4 linked regions of the Homo sapiens genome follow. The protein of the gene in region 1 purifies or fractionates together with the protein of each later gene. This does not show direct contact. Each region holds a gene or a part of one and is shown in the gene's direction. Other genes may lie near its edges.

Evidence for each region.
Region 2: the proteins of GINS2 (region 1) and MCMBP purify together in Homo sapiens (co-immunoprecipitation; 2 studies listed by IntAct). This does not show direct contact.
Region 3: the proteins of GINS2 (region 1) and INPPL1 purify together in Homo sapiens (affinity purification with mass spectrometry; one large-scale study listed by BioGRID and IntAct). This does not show direct contact.
Region 4: the proteins of GINS2 (region 1) and EIF4H fractionate together in Homo sapiens (co-fractionation; one large-scale study listed by BioGRID). This does not show direct contact.

What each region holds. Positions count from the first base shown.
Region 1 is NC_000016.10:85,686,155-85,690,389, reverse strand, and holds the start of GINS2 (DNA replication complex GINS protein PSF2), read left to right. Parts: upstream 1-1,435; 5' UTR 1,436-1,491; coding exon 1,492-1,581; intron 1,582-2,815; coding exon 2,816-2,930; intron 2,931-4,235. UniProt on the Homo sapiens protein: Required for correct functioning of the GINS complex, a complex that plays an essential role in the initiation of DNA replication, and progression of DNA replication forks.
Region 2 is NC_000010.11:119,833,921-119,838,343, reverse strand, and holds part of MCMBP (mini-chromosome maintenance complex-binding protein), read left to right. Parts: intron 1-1,314; coding exon 1,315-1,448; intron 1,449-2,639; coding exon 2,640-2,804; intron 2,805-4,423. UniProt on the Homo sapiens protein: Associated component of the MCM complex that acts as a regulator of DNA replication.
Region 3 is NC_000011.10:72,234,767-72,238,129, forward strand, and holds part of INPPL1 (phosphatidylinositol 3,4,5-trisphosphate 5-phosphatase 2), read left to right. Parts: intron 1-349; coding exon 350-437; intron 438-529; coding exon 530-685; intron 686-908; coding exon 909-987; intron 988-1,079; coding exon 1,080-1,220; intron 1,221-2,357; coding exon 2,358-3,030; intron 3,031-3,275; coding exon 3,276-3,363. UniProt on the Homo sapiens protein: Phosphatidylinositol (PtdIns) phosphatase that specifically hydrolyzes the 5-phosphate of phosphatidylinositol-3,4,5-trisphosphate (PtdIns(3,4,5)P3) to produce PtdIns(3,4)P2, thereby negatively regulating the PI3K (phosphoinositide 3-kinase) pathways.
Region 4 is NC_000007.14:74,177,356-74,181,778, forward strand, and holds part of EIF4H (eukaryotic translation initiation factor 4H), read left to right. Parts: intron 1-4,423. UniProt on the Homo sapiens protein: Stimulates the RNA helicase activity of EIF4A in the translation initiation complex. Binds weakly mRNA.

The sequences.
Region 1 (4,235 bases):
AGTGATCCTTCTGCCTCGGCCTCCCAAAGTGCTGGGATTACAGGCGTGCCTGGCCAAGAGTATGTGTCTTCACACATGAAAGTAACTCAGCGAAAACTCCAGATCTGTAAATAACAACTTCTAAGGCAGATACACAACAGACACAGCTTTGTGAGCAGGCCTGTGAGCTTTACGGCTTTTTTTCACCTTCCCAGTGACCCTCTATGGGGCTTCAGGGAGGTTGGAGAGGAGAGCATCCGGTTAGCTGGGGCGGGGGCAGGGGGTGCTTTCTGCTGGAATTCCAAACCCTGGAATCCTCATGTCTCCTGTGATTTTTCTCGCGGGCCTAATTATCAAGGTTTCAAATTCGACTGCAGTCCTAGAATAGCGCTTCACCCCCAGGAAGCTTTTCCGGCCATGACCACCCCATCAAAATCACCTGGCCCTGGATGAAATTCAGCTTTCTGTCCTTTCCACGACTCCGGAATCCCAACTCCCAGGAGCGTGCACACAGACAATGGGCACCCGCTAGGGGATTCTGACACAGGTGAGCTCCAGCCACCGCTCTGGCTTCACCTGCGCCCACTGTACAGGGGCAGCCGGTCCAGCGAGCAGGTGAGTATTTGCTCAGGTGGTGCAAACCTGCCGCTCCTGTCTCATGTGGGGCTCCTGCCGAAGTGCAAATTCTGAGCTCCTGCTCTGAAGTGTCCGAATTGGAAGCTGTGGGGTGGGATGGAGGAATCTGCATTTTTACAGCTGTTTTAAACAATGTGTGCAGAGAGGGCAGAAGATTGTGAAATTAATGGAAACAAGGTCTTCCCTCATCCCTCTATCTGTCAGCCCGGGTGATGCCTAGTCCCGGGCCCGGTGCTGAGTTTGGGCCAATAAATGCTTGTACTCTTGGCCTGGCACGATGGCTCCCACCTGTAATCCCAGCACTTTGGGAAGTCGAGATGGGAGGATCGCTGGAGACCGGAAGTTCAAGACCAGCCTGAGCAACACAGCAAGATCCCAAATCCACGAAAAGTTGTTTAAAAATTAAAATAAAATAAATGCGTTTACTCTTGGCCCCATGCGGAACGCCGGCGTAGAAGCGGCCCGGAACCCCACCCCCGGCTCTTGATTAGGGCCGTTTGCGGCGGGCGCCGGGGACAGGTGAAGGGACACCAAAGCTGGCGCCCGCGGCAGGAGATCCTGACAGCGCCAGGTGCACGCCCACGGGCGGGGCGGGGCCGGGGTGGGGGCGGGGCCTGTCCGCGGGCCGGGGCGGGGCCGGCGCGCAGCCTCCCTCGGCCTTGCCAATCCGCGGGCTCTTCGCGAGCGCGGTCTCCGCCCCCCCGCCCGCAGACAGCGCCTATAGGCTGTCTACCGCCTTCCTATAGGCTGGCGCAGGCCGTCTTCCGGCCGGGGCGGGCTCTCGCCGTGGCGGGAAAACGGCGGCCGCGGCGTCTCCTCCGGGACGCTGAGGGGCCCGAGGAGACCGTGAGGCTCTGGCCTGCAGCTCGCGCCGCCATGGACGCTGCCGAGGTCGAATTCCTCGCCGAGAAGGAGCTGGTTACCATTATCCCCAACTTCAGTCTGGACAAGATCTACCTCATCGGGGTGAGGCCTGGGCCCGCCGTGGGGAGGGGAGGCCGGGCTGGGCGCGTCCGGGGCTCCCGCGTGGCCTTCAGCCCCGGGGTCGCGGGCTCGCCCTGCTCCCGCATCTGCGGAGGCCACCACTCGGCGCTTGACTCGCTCACCGCCGTTCCCGCTTCTCGGATGAGGAAAGCGAGACTGCGCTCTTTGCCAGTGCCCCGAACGCCCGGGTTTACAGGGTTTTTTTGATCTGTTTGGGGGCTTTTTTGGTTTGTTTTTTGGTTTTTGAGGTGGAGTGTCACTCTGTCGCCCAGGCTGGAGTGCAGTGGTGCCGTCTCGGCTCACTGCAGCCTCCGCCTCCCGGGTTCAAGCGATTCTCCTGCCTCAGCCTCCTGAGTAGCTGCTGTTACAGGTGCCCGCCACCACGCCCGGCGCATTTTTGTATTTTTGGTAGAGATGTGGTTTCACCGTGTTGGCCAGGCTGGTCTCGAACTCCTGACCTCATGAGCCACTCGCCTCGGCCTCCCAAAGTGCTGGGATGACAGGCGGGAGCCACTGCGCCCGGCTTATTTATTTGGTAGAGATGCGGCTGGCCTCGAACTCCTGGGCTCCCCAGGCGATCCTCCCACGTCGGCCTCCCAAAGGGCTGGGATTATGGGCAAAAGTCGGCTTTGCCTCTGTTTGTTTTTGTCTTTATCTTTGAGATGGAGTTTCGCTCTATCGCCCGGGCGGGAATGCAGTGGCGCGATCTCGGCTCACTGCGGCCTCCGCCTCCCGGGTTCAGGTGATTCTCCTGCCTCAGCCTCCCGAGTAGCTGGATTGTGAGCCCCCGCGCCCGCCCGGCTTTGCGTTTTCAGTATGAGGGAGGCGCCTCGGCGCTGGGAGTCCTGGAGAAGGAGGGCAGGCTCTGTACCTGCCCAGACCCACCTCCCCGCACCCCAGGACCCCAACATTGGGTGTGTGAAACCTGTTCCGGAGTTGGAGGGTGCAGGCGGGAGAGGGAGCGCCCCCCACCCACTCAGGGGAGACTTGCATCCTGTCCGCGGAAAGGCCAGAAGGACTGAGCCCCACGCTCGCAGGTGTCTCGGAGCCGCTCAGGAGGCGCTTTGTTCTGAGTCTGGTAACAGTTGGGTTTTTATTATTTGCATTTGGACTTCAGCCTCTGCAATGCCTTGCCTCTTATTTGATAGCAGTAACGCACAGTAATGCTTTTTTTGTTCTTTTTCAATCTTACGGGGAATTGTTTTACTTTTGGCAGGGGGACCTGGGGCCTTTTAACCCTGGTTTACCCGTGGAAGTGCCCCTGTGGCTGGCGATTAACCTGAAACAAAGACAGAAATGTCGCCTGCTCCCTCCAGAGTGGATGGATGTAGGTAAGGATGTGGTGGAGACTGGTTGATGCGTGGGTGGGGCTGGGCTTGGGGTGACGCCCTCTCCCACGGGGTGGAGGCATGGGGCCTCCTTCCTGACTAGGTCCGTGCTCCCTCTGTTCCGTTATCTACTGATCAGCTGAAAGGAATACTTCCAGATTCACCTCTCAGCAGAGTCTGCTAACCACTGTTAGTAATGTCATGTTAGGTTTTGGTGTGTGTGAAAGTTGTAGTTTGTTTTTTGAGACGGGTCTGACTCCATCACCCAGGCTGGAGAGCAGTGGTGCAATCTCGGCTCAATGCAGCCTTCACCTCCTGGGTTCAAGTGATCCTCCTGCCTCAGCCTCCCAAGTAGCTGGGACCACTGGCGTGCGCCACCACACCCTGCAAATTTTTGCGTTTTTGTAGAGATGGGGTCTTGCCATGCTGCCCAGGCTGGTCTCAAACTCCTGGGGTCAAGCGATCTGGCCACCTTGGCAGATCTGCTGGGATTATAGGCGTGAGCCACTGTGCCCAGCCTATATTTTAATGTAAGATATTTCAATTTGCTTTAAAATAAATATATGACCTTAAATAAGCATTTGTTTTAAAATTTTAAAAATAAGTATAGATTAGCATGTTGAGAAGCAGTTATAGAGAATGCATGAAAATAATATATCACAATAAGGTTGAATATTATTCAGCTATAAAAAGGAATGGAATTCTGATACATGCTACTGCGTGGATGAACCTGAAACATCTTAAAGATCTTGCTGAATGAAAGAAACCAGGCACAAAAGGCCGCACACTGTATCATTCCATTTCTATCAACTGTCTAGAATAGGCAAATCAATAGAGACAATGTAGATTAGTAGTTGCTTAAGTATGGGGGTCTTGCTTTGGGTGATGGAGGGATTGTGGAGTTTCTTTTTGGCATGATGAAAATTGGGATTGATGGAGGTAATGGTTGCCCAAGTCTGAATATACTAAACACCATTGACTTGTACACTTTGTTTTTAATAGCCCACAAGTGCTACTAAAACTTGTATACTTTTTTTTTTTTTTTGAGACAGAGTCTCGCTCTGTCGCCCAGGCTGGAGTGCAGTGGTGCGATCTCGGCTCACTGCAAGCTCCACCTCCTGGGTTCACACCATTCTCCCGCGTCAGCCTCCCAAGTAGCTGGGACTACAGGCGCCCGCTACCACGCTCGGCTAATTTTGTTTTTGTATTTTTAGTAGAGACTGGGTTTCACCGTGTTAGCCAGGTTGGTCTCAATCTCCTGACCTCGTGATCCACCCACCTCAAAACTTGTATACTTTAAATGGCTGA
Region 2 (4,423 bases), on another chromosome or scaffold:
TTCTGAAAGTAGTACAATGGAACAGATATATATCTTATATAATATATCTTATATAATATATATCATATATAATATATAATGTCTCATTTAATATATATCATATATTATATATTTTATATATTATATAATGGAGCAATAATATAAAGGGTAGTATTAGTATAATGGAGCAGTAATATAAAGGGTAGTATTAGATGTTGAGGGTCGTAAGGGTTCTTTGGTGAAAAGTTTTATTGTGTCAGCGAATGGTTGGAGCAGTCTTTATGGGCCTACAGTGTTGGGTTCTTTTGCGTAGTTGTATATAACCTAAAATTTTTTTTTCAGTGAGTGTAAGGAATGGTAGAGACAGGGTCTCGCTATGTTGCCCAGCTGATCTTGAATTCCTGGGCTCAAGTGATCCTCCTGCCTTGGCCTCCCACAGTGCTGGGATTACAGGTGTGAGCCACTGCACCTGCCCCAAATAGCTTTTTAAAAAGCTGAAATGGGAGGAAGCTTTGCCTTTAGTCATCTAATACCTCAAAAGGGAAGTGTAGAAAAGATCTAATATAATTTTTTTTTTGTTTTGAGACGGAGTCTTGCTCTGTCGCCCAGGCTGGAGTGCAGTGGCCAATCTTGGCTCACTGCAACCTCCAACTCCCGGGTTCACACCATTCTCCTGCCTCAGCCTCCCGAGTAGCTGGGACTACAGGCACCCGCCATCACGCCTGGCTAATTATGTTTTAACCTCCCGTTGTAAAGTTTGTAAATGGTTTTCAGAGAATGTCTGAGAAATAATAGATCAAATGGTTTGCACTAACCTCAGTTGCGGAATATATTATAAAATCACAAGAAAGCAGATTGTTTACCAGTGCTCAAATGAAGACAATTAAGAATACACTGCTGGCGATCAGCTCAAGAGGTAAAGGTAGAAGAAAAAATGAGGTAGACTGGGCATGTTTAAGGCAAAGGGGAATATAAAATCTGTAAAATTCACTAGGCTGATCTATGTATGACGGTAGTTTTAGTGTTTCCTTGGTTTAGCCCTGTAAATACACCACTTAGAAATAATCATACTTGGGAACTATTTTATGTCTAGGTGCATACCAGATGCTAGGTATTAGATTTGCGGGGGTATCGCCTGCCCCCAGAAAGTTCTACCTTGACCAAGACTGTTGTAAGCCTACACACTTAGTGACGTTTAGCTTAGTAAACTGGACAGCGCCTCATACCCTTTATTAAAAGTGGTAGAAACTTCATGGCTCATCATCGGTGTCAGCAAAACTGATGTGTTTAGATGATTAAAGTCAAATGACTGAAAGTGTTTTCCTGCCTTTGTAGGTGTTCATAATGTGACAGCCCTGAGCAACCTCATAACGTGGCAGAAGGTGGATTATGACTTCAGCTACCATCAGATGGAATTCCCCTGCAATATTAACGTTTTCATTACTTCGGAGGGGAGGTCACTCCTCCCGGTATGATGAGTCATTTTTAAATGGAGGGAGGTTGACATTGGAAAAATACCTACATTTTTGCTGTTTCTTGGTACCGCTTATTAATAAGTTACATTTGTTGTAAAAAAAAAAAAAAAAAAAAAAAAAAAAAAAAAAAAACTGTGACTGCTGATCATTAAGGGAATTGAGTATTTTGCACTGCCATGGATGAAAACCTTACATCTACCAAGCTCAGGTATCAGCAAGTCATGAGACCAGCAAGGCTGTTGGCAGCAGAAACACCCACATCTGAGCATAGCGAGATTGCCTGATTTTAACATCCAGACTTCTGTTCTTGCTACCTTTGACCCATTGTTTTCTGCTAATCTTATGTGAAAAATATTTCAGAGTTCTTTTAAAATGTCCTTGGTCACTTGGTAGTTATTTTCATGCTTTGTGGTGAAATGCTCTGGTATGTCTTCAGAGTGGCTGGTAAAGAGAGCTTTTAATTCTGTGGATGATGGGAAATGCTCCCAGTTGTCAAATGGTGTGTAGTCTCTGAATAATAGTATTCACCTGCGATTGATGAGAAACCGCCTTTGACTAAGAATGAAATGGCTCAAGGATATGTTTTCTGTGTGCAAGTATTGATAGACCTTTTTAATTAGCTGCTTTTTAGAGGTTGGCTACATTTTTGTGTGCTTACTGATACCATTGAGGAAACATAAGTAACCAAGAAAAAGCTTTCATAATTATTTCTGAGGTAGTTATAAAGCATGTAAATTAATATTAAAAATAGATGCTCACTGGCTGCGGTGGCTCACGCCTGTAATCCTAGCACTTTGGGAGGCCAAGGCAGGTGGATTGCGTGAGCCCAGAACTTTGAGGCCAGCCTGGACAACATGACGAAACTTGTCTCTACAAAAAATCCAAAATTAGTCAGGCATGGTGGCGTGCACCTGTGGTCCCACTACTGAGGAGGCTGAGGTGGGAGGATCACTTGAGCCTGGGAAGCAGGTTGCAGTGAGCTGCAATCACACCACTGCACTCCAGCCTGGGTGACAGGACAAAACCCTGTCTCACACACAGAAAAAAAAACATTATTCCCTCCCCCTAAATAATAAGTGGTATTTTCTAATTCCCATAGGGGCTGACAGAGATGATGCATCTTTCTTTAAAAATGTAGATTAATTTAGGAACTCAGAAAATACAGTGTACTCCTTCTCTTTTCAGGCAGACTGCCAGATTCACTTACAGCCCCAGCTAATTCCACCAAACATGGAGGAGTACATGAACAGCCTTCTCTCAGCGGTGCTGCCTTCCGTGCTGAACAAATTCCGCATTTATCTAACTCTTTTGAGATTCTTGGAATATAGCATATCTGATGAAATAACCAAGGTATGTCTAGGTTAAAATAAAGGATTTCCCTGTGTTGAATTGCAGTATGCAACCAATTTACATTTACCATAATTACTGATAAGGTAATTTTGTTATTTGTTTTCTGTCATGTCTTTTTTTATTCCTCTGTTACTCCATTATTGTCTTTTTGTTTGAAATAGGTATTTTCCAGTGTCCCATTTTAATCCCTTGAAGTTTCTTAAAGTTATTTTCTTAGTAGTTGTCTTTGGGGGATAAACTTAACATGTTAGTATAATCATCTATTAGGGATTAATGCCAGTTTGTTTAGTTATTTTTAATTTAAAAAAAATTTGTGTGGCTAATGCCATTTTAATTATATTATACAAAGACTTTGCCCCTTTATAATTCCGTTCCTTCTCCTCTCCCTTGTGCTCCTGTCATACAATTACCTCTCAGTACATTGTATGTCCATCAACACATTTAGAATTACTGCTTTTGCAGTTGTCTTTTAGAGAAAAAAGTTAGAAATGGAAAAGACTTCTGTACTATTTTTTCTATTTGCCTATGCAATCACTTTTACCAGCACCCTTTATTTCCTCATGTGGGTTCATGTTACTGTCTAGTATCTTTTCATTTCAGCCTGAAGAACTGTCTTTAGTGTTTCTTGCATGGCAGGTCTACTTGTGCAAATTCTTTTTTTTTTTTTTTTTTTTTTTTGAGACAGGGTCTCGCTGTGTCATCCAGGCTAGAGTGCAGTGTTGTGATCATGGCTCACTGCAGCCTCAACCCCCCCAGGTTCAAGCGATCCTCCCACTTCAGCCTCCTGAGTAGTTGGGACCACAGGCATGTGCCACTGTGCCCAGCTAATTCTTTGTTTTTTGGGTTTTTTTGTTTTGTTTGGGTGTGTGTGTGTGTTTGTGTGTGTGCAGATAGGGGATCTCTTTATGTTGCCCAGGCTAGTCTCGAACTCCTGGGTTCAAGTGATCCTCTCTCCTTAGCCTCCCGAAATTCTGGAATTAGAGGTGTGAGCTACCTCGCCCAGCCCTCTTTTAAGTTTTTGTTTATCTGGGAATGTCTTAATTTCTCCTTAAGGCTAGTTTTGCTGGATGTAGAATTCTTGGTTTATAGTCTTTGTCTCATCATTTCGAATATGTCCTCCCACCACTTTCTGGCCTCTGGTTTCTACTGAGAAGCCAACTAGTTTCTGATAAGGATCCTTTGTACACACTGAGTCATTTTTCTGTCACTGCTTTCAAGATTTTGTGGCTTTTGACAGTTTCGATTATGATGTGTCTATGTGTGGATCTCTGAGTTTATCCTACATGGAGTTTGTTGAGCTTCTTGGAGGTGCAGAATAATTCATATTTTGGGGAAGTTTTCAACAAGTTTGGGAAGGTTTTGGCCATGTTTCTTTCTGCCTCATTTCTCTCTGCTCTCCTTCTGACACTACCACTGTGTATCTGATGTTGCATTTAATGGTATCCCACAGGTCTTCAAGGCTCTGTTCATTTTCCCTCATTCTTCTTTTTTTGTTCTGTTTCTTAGACTAATCTCAGTGAACTTATCTTCAAATTTAGTGATTTTCTTCTGCCTGATCAAATCTGAGCACCTCTAGAGAATTTTTACTATATTTTTCAACTCCAGAATTTTTATTTCCT
Region 3 (3,363 bases), on another chromosome or scaffold:
GGGCATGGGCATGAGTGAGGATAAAGGCGTTTGCTTTATTTTGGGAGTGTGGAACCTTGTTGCAGTTTGTTCATTCATTCAGGAGATGCTTCTTGAGCTTTTGCTAGATGTCAGGTCCTGTGTTAGCTATTGAGAAAATTAATTAGTTACAGTGATGCTAGGTGCTGTAAAAGGCCTGTATAGGGCTGTGTCTTCTGCATTAAGGATTTGGCTCTTCTCTGAAGAGTTGAGTGTGAGTGAGCACAGATGACCTGAGGGTGGGGATTGAGTGGTGTCAGGGGGCAGCGCGTAGGAGGGGCAGGAGGAAGTGGCGGGGCTTTGTTCCTCACTGGGCCTCCCTGCTTCCCAGCTCAAACCAATTCTGGCTGATATCGAGTACCTGCAGGACCAGCACCTCCTGCTCACAGTCAAGTCCATGGATGGCTATGAATCCTATGGTGAGGGGTGAGGGGTGCTGAGGGGAACAGGAAGCCAGACAGGGCCCTAGATTAGCTTGGTAATTTGCTGGTTTGTCCCATCTGCTCCTCAGGGGAGTGTGTGGTTGCACTCAAATCCATGATCGGCAGCACGGCCCAACAGTTCCTGACCTTCCTATCCCACCGTGGCGAGGAGACAGGCAATATCAGAGGCTCCATGAAGGTGCGGGTGCCCACGGAGCGCCTGGGCACCCGTGAGCGGCTCTACGGTGGGGACTCCACTGGGACATGAGATAGGGTGGTGTGAACAGATCAAGGAGGGCAGGGTGCGGGGGGCATGTTGGAATCTCTGGGATACCTGGAGGTTCTGCAGCCACAGCTGGGAATAGTCCTGCCCCAAGGCATAGCTGGGAAAGGGCTGGCAGGCCCACTGGGTGTCTGTGGGATCCAGGAGCCCAGGTCTCCTCTGAGTCTCCCTTCCTGCCCCCTCAGAGTGGATCAGCATTGATAAGGATGAGGCAGGAGCAAAGAGCAAAGCCCCCTCTGTGTCCCGAGGGAGCCAGGAGCCCAGGTGAGCTAGGGCTGTGTTGAATGTCATATGAAAGGGTACCTGGGGGCATCTGGTCAACCCCACTTCATCTCTCTCCTGTGCATCCCTGGCAGGTCAGGGAGCCGCAAGCCAGCCTTCACAGAGGCCTCCTGCCCGCTCTCCAGGTTATTTGAAGAACCAGAGAAACCGCCACCAACGGGGAGGCCCCCAGCCCCACCCCGAGCAGCTCCCCGGGAGGAGCCCTTGACCCCCAGGTGAGAGGAGGAACCTGTCACCGCCCCCCCTTCCCCCACCCACCTCTATCCATCACTATCCCCTGCAGGGTCTCAGGGTTGGCCTGGAGATCATCAGCTGCTTAGGTGCCCTGCCACTCTGTGGTTGGAGCTGCCATGGCCTTATGCCTGTGGCCAGCCAGGCCACCCTTAGCTGTGGCTCTGAGTCAAAGGGAGCAGTCAGCCTTTCCTCTCAATTCTGCCTTTAAAAATGGAATGCGAAATTGTTTCTAAGACAGCTCCCTCCATGTAAACAGACCTAGCTTGAGCCTTCTATTTGGAGGAGGCACATGGCTCGGCCTGGGATTTCCCAGGGTACCTTCTTTGGAACTCTGTCCTGCAAGAGGCCCCAGTTGAAATGGGTTTGTGGTCAAATGAGTTTGGGAAATGCTTTTTCTAGATTCTTTTCTTAGACATTCCCAGTGCATGTTAGTATTAGCAAAAGCTCTGAGCATGTGGACAGGAAGGAAACCTCTTTTCAGCTCTGTTTAATATAGTTTCCCAAACTTAATGGGCCAGGAAACTTATTTTCCATGTAGTAACTATTAACGTTCTGGGGAATTAGTGCTCTGTGTCACACTTTGGGAAAGTGAGGCTTGCTTTCTAATTATATCCGATTGTTGCTTAAACTTACATAAACTCCTAGGTACAGTTTGGTGCTTTTTCACTCATCTTCAGCTGTTGTCAGTCACCCCGGTTTTATCCCTAGGCTTGAATAAGACCCACCTGAATCTCTGAGAAAGATTCTGCAGCGGATTGACTGTGGGTGCCTCAAGAGGCTTTCCAAACCTGGCCTCTCATTGGAGGCTTCTTGCCCTGTCTTCTGGCACCTCTATTCTGACCCATTTAGCTTGGGTTTCACAGCTACAGATAAAGTCATGAAAGATCTAAGTATCTTAGCAAGTGAGGCAAGGGATTGTAGGGTTATCCATTCAAAGGGTTATCCTCCCTCTGACCTTTAGAGATGAAGAAACTAAGGGCAGGTGATGTGCTCAAGGTCATGAGAAAGTCTAGGACCAGGGGACTTTCTGACTCCCGTCTAGTTCTCCTTCCACTGCTTCCACTGCCTTAGACCTGGGTTCCTGGATCCTGGCTTAGTCGTTCTGCTTCCACACCCAGGTTGAAGCCAGAGGGAGCTCCTGAACCAGAAGGGGTGGCGGCCCCCCCACCCAAGAACAGCTTCAATAACCCTGCCTACTACGTCCTTGAAGGGGTCCCGCACCAGCTGCTGCCCCCGGAGCCACCCTCGCCTGCCAGGGCCCCTGTCCCATCTGCCACCAAGAACAAAGTGGCCATTACAGTGCCTGCTCCACAGCTTGGGCACCACCGGCACCCTCGTGTGGGAGAGGGGAGTTCTTCAGATGAGGAGTCTGGAGGCACACTGCCCCCTCCAGACTTTCCACCTCCACCACTGCCGGACTCAGCCATCTTCCTGCCCCCCAGCCTGGATCCTTTACCAGGGCCAGTGGTCCGGGGCCGTGGTGGGGCTGAGGCCCGTGGCCCACCACCTCCCAAGGCCCATCCAAGGCCTCCACTGCCCCCAGGCCCCTCACCAGCCAGCACTTTCCTGGGGGAAGTGGCCAGTGGGGATGACCGGTCCTGCTCGGTGCTGCAGATGGCCAAGACGCTGAGCGAGGTGGACTATGCCCCTGCTGGGCCTGCACGCTCAGCGCTCCTCCCAGGCCCCCTGGAGCTGCAGCCCCCCCGGGGACTGCCCTCGGACTATGGCCGGCCCCTCAGCTTCCCTCCACCCCGCATCCGGGAGAGCATCCAGGAAGACCTGGCAGAGGAGGTGTGTGGAGCAGGGTGGCTGTCTGTGTGTGCCTGAGTGTGCTTGCCCACAGACTGGTACCCTTTCACTCCACCATTCAGCACTCATGGTGTCCCTGCTACCCTGAACTGATCACTGGGAAGTTGGGAGACACATGTATCAGCCCAGCCCTTCCCTTCCTTTTCCCCAGAGCATGCAGCAGAATGTGACTGCAGGTGTTTCTATGGGGGGCACTCAGCTCCCCCTGACATGCCCTGTTTCCTTAGGCTCCGTGCCTGCAGGGCGGGCGGGCCAGCGGGCTGGGCGAGGCAGGCATGAGTGCCTGGCTGCGGGCCATCGGCTTGGAGCGCTATG
Region 4 (4,423 bases), on another chromosome or scaffold:
TAAAATGTGCCACTTTACCCATTTTTCAGTATACATTTCAGGGATATTGAGTGTATTCGTAATGTATAACCATCACCACTATCCAGCTCCTTAACTCTTACAGCTTGTAAAACTAAAACCCTGTCCCCTTTGAATAGTAATTCCCTATTGCCCTCCTTCCCCCAGGTCCCTGGCAACCACCATTCTACTTCCTGTCTCTGAGCATATTTTAAGATTTGTATGTAATAGGAAGGAAAGCAGTGTATAAAAACTACAGCTAGTTTTCACTGATGCTAGGGCCTGTAAAGCTATTGAAAAGCTTATTTTAAAATGCTGTTTACATGTCAAATGTCAAGTCGTTTAGGTTTGTTATCCTTCTTCACTCCAAGTGTTCCATTGCTTAGTTCCAAACCATTATCCTCTATGAAAAGTGTTACCAGAAATATTTGGATTTGCTAAGAGGTCTCTGCATGACGGTTCATGTAAAAGCCCTGGCTTTGGAATAAGGCAGACCAGAGTTTCATCAGTTCAGCCATGTGTTAGTTGTGTGATCTGAAGTAAGTTTCTTCACCTCTCTGAGCCTCGTTTTCCCCACATATGAGTTAGAAACATGTATTTATTTATGAAATAGGCTCTCCTTCTGTCACCCAGGCTGGAGTGCAGTGGCAGGATCATAGCTCAGTGCAGCCTCGACTTCCCAGGCTCAAGCCATCCTCCCACCTCAGCCTCCCAAGTAGCTGGGATTACAGGGTGCGCCACCATGCCCAGCTAATTTTTGTATTTTTTTGTAGAGACAGAGTGTCTCTATGTTGCCCAGGCTAGTCTCAAACCCCTGGGCTCAAGGGATCTTCCTGCCTCAGCCTCCCAAGGCTCATTGTGTGAGCCACAGTACCCAGCCTTCAATTTATGTTTCTATTAGAAATTAAGCTTTGTGGCTGGGTGCAGTGGTTCATGCCTGTTATCCCAGCACTTTGGAAGGCCGAAGCAGGCGGATCACTTGTGGCCAGAAGTTTGAGACCACCCTGACCAACGTGGCAAAACCCCATGTCTACTAAAAATACAAAACGGGTGTGGCGGCACATACCTGTAATCCTAGCTACTTGGGAGGCTGAGGCAGGAGAATTGCTTGAACCAGGGAGGCGGAGGTTGCATTGAGCTGAGATCATGCCACTGCACTCCTCCAGCCTGGGCGACAGAGAGAGACTGTCTCCAAAAAAAAAAAAAGAAAAATTAAGCTTAGTGTTCTGGAAAGACTTCACAATTTTAAGGAGTCTCCCTGGAAGCTTAGAACGTACAAAGCAGACTCTGAATGTCTTTCCAGGATCACACTCTGGCTTCCAGCTTCCCCTGGAAGGTTCAGGAGAGTATTTGTCGCCTGGTTGCTTTTACATCATGCTGATTAGACCTGCACACCCGGGCATGAAATGAGTGTGATTGCATCATTTTCATAGAACCTAATGGCAGCTGTATGTACGTCTAAGACTTCTTTTGTGTAAGTCGAATGTTCTTCGAAGTTTCCCCACGTCATGATTTATGTGATTTTCCGTCTTGATCAGGACCTTCTGAAGGAGCTCAAGTATGTGGCTGCTCCACGGTTGATGAGTCTCTGGTTAAGCATGGCCTTCCAGTTCAGGGCTAGGGGGGCCGTCACCTCCCTTTGTTCTGCACATTCTTCTCCTGTCTTTCATGTATACTCACATTTTTGGAGCCTTCTGTGTACTCACATTTTTGGAGCCTTCTAAATGTCTGGCTTAATAGAACACAGCTGGATTCTCATACCTGCATCTGTCTCCACTCTTGGAATGTGTTGCTTTGGTTGACTTTTATGGAGCAGCTCAATCCTTGCACAGATAAATAGTTGGAAATGGGAGGAGTAATCAAATAATTCTGGATATTCATATTTGATTCTATACCAAAACTCAATAAGCAGTAGTTTCTATGAAGGTTAGTTGCAATGTGAAACCTAAAACCTTATCAATAAACTCTTCATACTTTTACATTAGAGTTCATCATTTGGCTGGGCGCGGTGGCTCACTCCTGTAACCCCAGGACTTTGGGAGGCCAAGGCGGGCGGATTACCTGAGGTCAGTAGTCTGAGACCAGCCTGGCTAACATGGCAAAGCCCCATCTCTACTAAAAACACAAAAACTAGCTGGGCATGGTGGTGGGCCCCTGTAGTCCCAGCTACTTGGGAGGCTGAAGCCATAGAATCACTTGAACCTGGGAGGTGGAGTTTGCAGTGAGCCCAGATTGCGCCACTGCACTCCCGCCTGGGCGACAGGGTGAGACTCTGTATCAAAAAAAAAAAAAAAAAGTCACTTTATCTTGTACTCCGACTGGATCCTTTACCAGTGCATACATTTGTAAGGTGTTGGTGATTTGGAAAGGACCTGTTCACTGAGCCAGGCAGAGCCATGCAGATGTTCCAGATGTTGGTACATTTTGTTATACAGTATCAAAGTCACATTCACCATAGCTGTTAGAAAAGTCTCTGAGTATTGAAAGACTGTCAGGCTTATGTTGATGGATACAGGTTTTCCGAAACTCTTTTTTGCTTGAAAGCTTAAATTTTACCATTGGCAACAAATACTGTTATTTTGGCCAGGTGCTGTGGCTCATGTCTGTAATCCCAACACTTTGGGAGGCCATGGCAGGAGGATCACTCTAGCCCAGTCTGGACAATATGTCCAGACCTGGTCTTTTCAAAAATAAAATTAGCTGGTGTGGTGGTATATGCCTATAGTCCCACCTACTTGGGAGGCTGAGGCTAGAGGATCACTTGAGTCCTGGAGATTGAGGCTGCAGTGAGCAGTGATTGCACCACAGCACTCAAATCTGGGCAACAGAGCAAGACCCTGTCTCAAAACAAAAAACCCAAATACTGTTCTTTTACTTCAAGGAACAGACTTAACTTCATTTTTAAAAAACTTAGTACCCATGTCTGAATTAACCATAGTTTGTTCTATAGAAAGAACAGCTAGTTCAGCTTGTAGCTCAAGTGCTTTTCCTGCAGCAGCCATCATGCTTGTGTATGCAGCAGAAGTGCTTTGCGTGTTTCATAACATAGGGTACTAAAAAGTGGGTCACGATTCATTTTTACTGCTTTACCAAGGATATTCCTAATTGAAGCTGTGATTTTTCTTCCTATTTTAAATACTTCAAGTGCATGGTGGGAAAGCATGAGTAATGTAGTTTGATGCCCCTGCCTTCGTTTGTATTAACACAAAGACCTGTTGTGAGATCAGTATAGGTCTTTGCTTTATAAATGTGGAATATTGTGAACCATTCTGGGAACCATATTTTAAGGCATCAGCACACTGGAGCCTATGAAGAAGAAGGTGATAGTGGGGATGGCCAGGCTCTGAAACTTCATCTTAGGAGGAAGGGCTGAGCAGCTTCAGTGAGGACCTTCGAAAGAAGCCTCAGCAGCAGTGATACAGCAGCTCTTAAGTCTCTGGGACTGCTGAGTGGAAGAAAGGTGTGGCCCTCCAGGCCAGAATAGGACCAAAGGATTACATCTTGGCCTTCTTCAGAGACTGCACAAATGTAAAGAACTGCTGCTTGAGCTAAATAATTGTTTTTTTAATAGAGACAGGGTCTCCCTTTGTTGCCTAAGCTGGTCTTGAACTAGCCTCAAGGGATACTCCTGCCTTGACCTCCTAAAGTGCTGGGATTGCAAGCATGAGCCACCACGCCCAGCCTCAACCATTTTTAAGTGTACAATTTAGTGGCATGGAGTACCTTCATAGTGTTGTGTAACCATTGCCACTATCTAGTTCCAGAACCTTTTCATAATCCAAACAGAAACTCTATACCCACTAAACAACTCCATTCCTTTCCCAGTTTTAACCTCATAAACATTTTGGCTATTTCTGTTACATCTATCTTCCCTACTTTTGGGTGGAGGTGTGGGCTAGGATAATTTAAGGCTAATCCTAGTCACCTATCCTTCTAAAATAGTTCTTATTTTTTTAAATTTTAATCCTCATCTTTGTGTTGGTAAATATTACATACTTTAGAGCAATTTTTGTTTCAATTTTTATGGCTACCGTAGTAGATGTATCTTATATATTCTTTCTTTGTTTTTTTTGTTTTTTGTTTTGTTTTGTTTTCTGAGGCAGAGTTTTACTCTTGTTGCCCAGGCTGGAATGCAGTGGCACTATCTCGGCTCACCACAACCTCCGCCTCCTGGGTTCAAGCGATTCTCCTGCCTCAGCCTCCCGAGTAGCTGGGATTACAGGCATGTGCCACCACACCTGGCAAATTTTGTATTTTTAGCAGAGATAGAGCAGAAACAGAGGGTTTCTACATGTTGGTCAGGCTGGTCTCGAACTCCCGACCTCAGGTAATCTGCCTGCCTCGGCCTCCCAAAGTGCTGGGATTACAGGTGTGAGCCACCGAGCCCGGCCTTTTTTTTTGAGATGGAGTCTCACTCTGCCTCCCA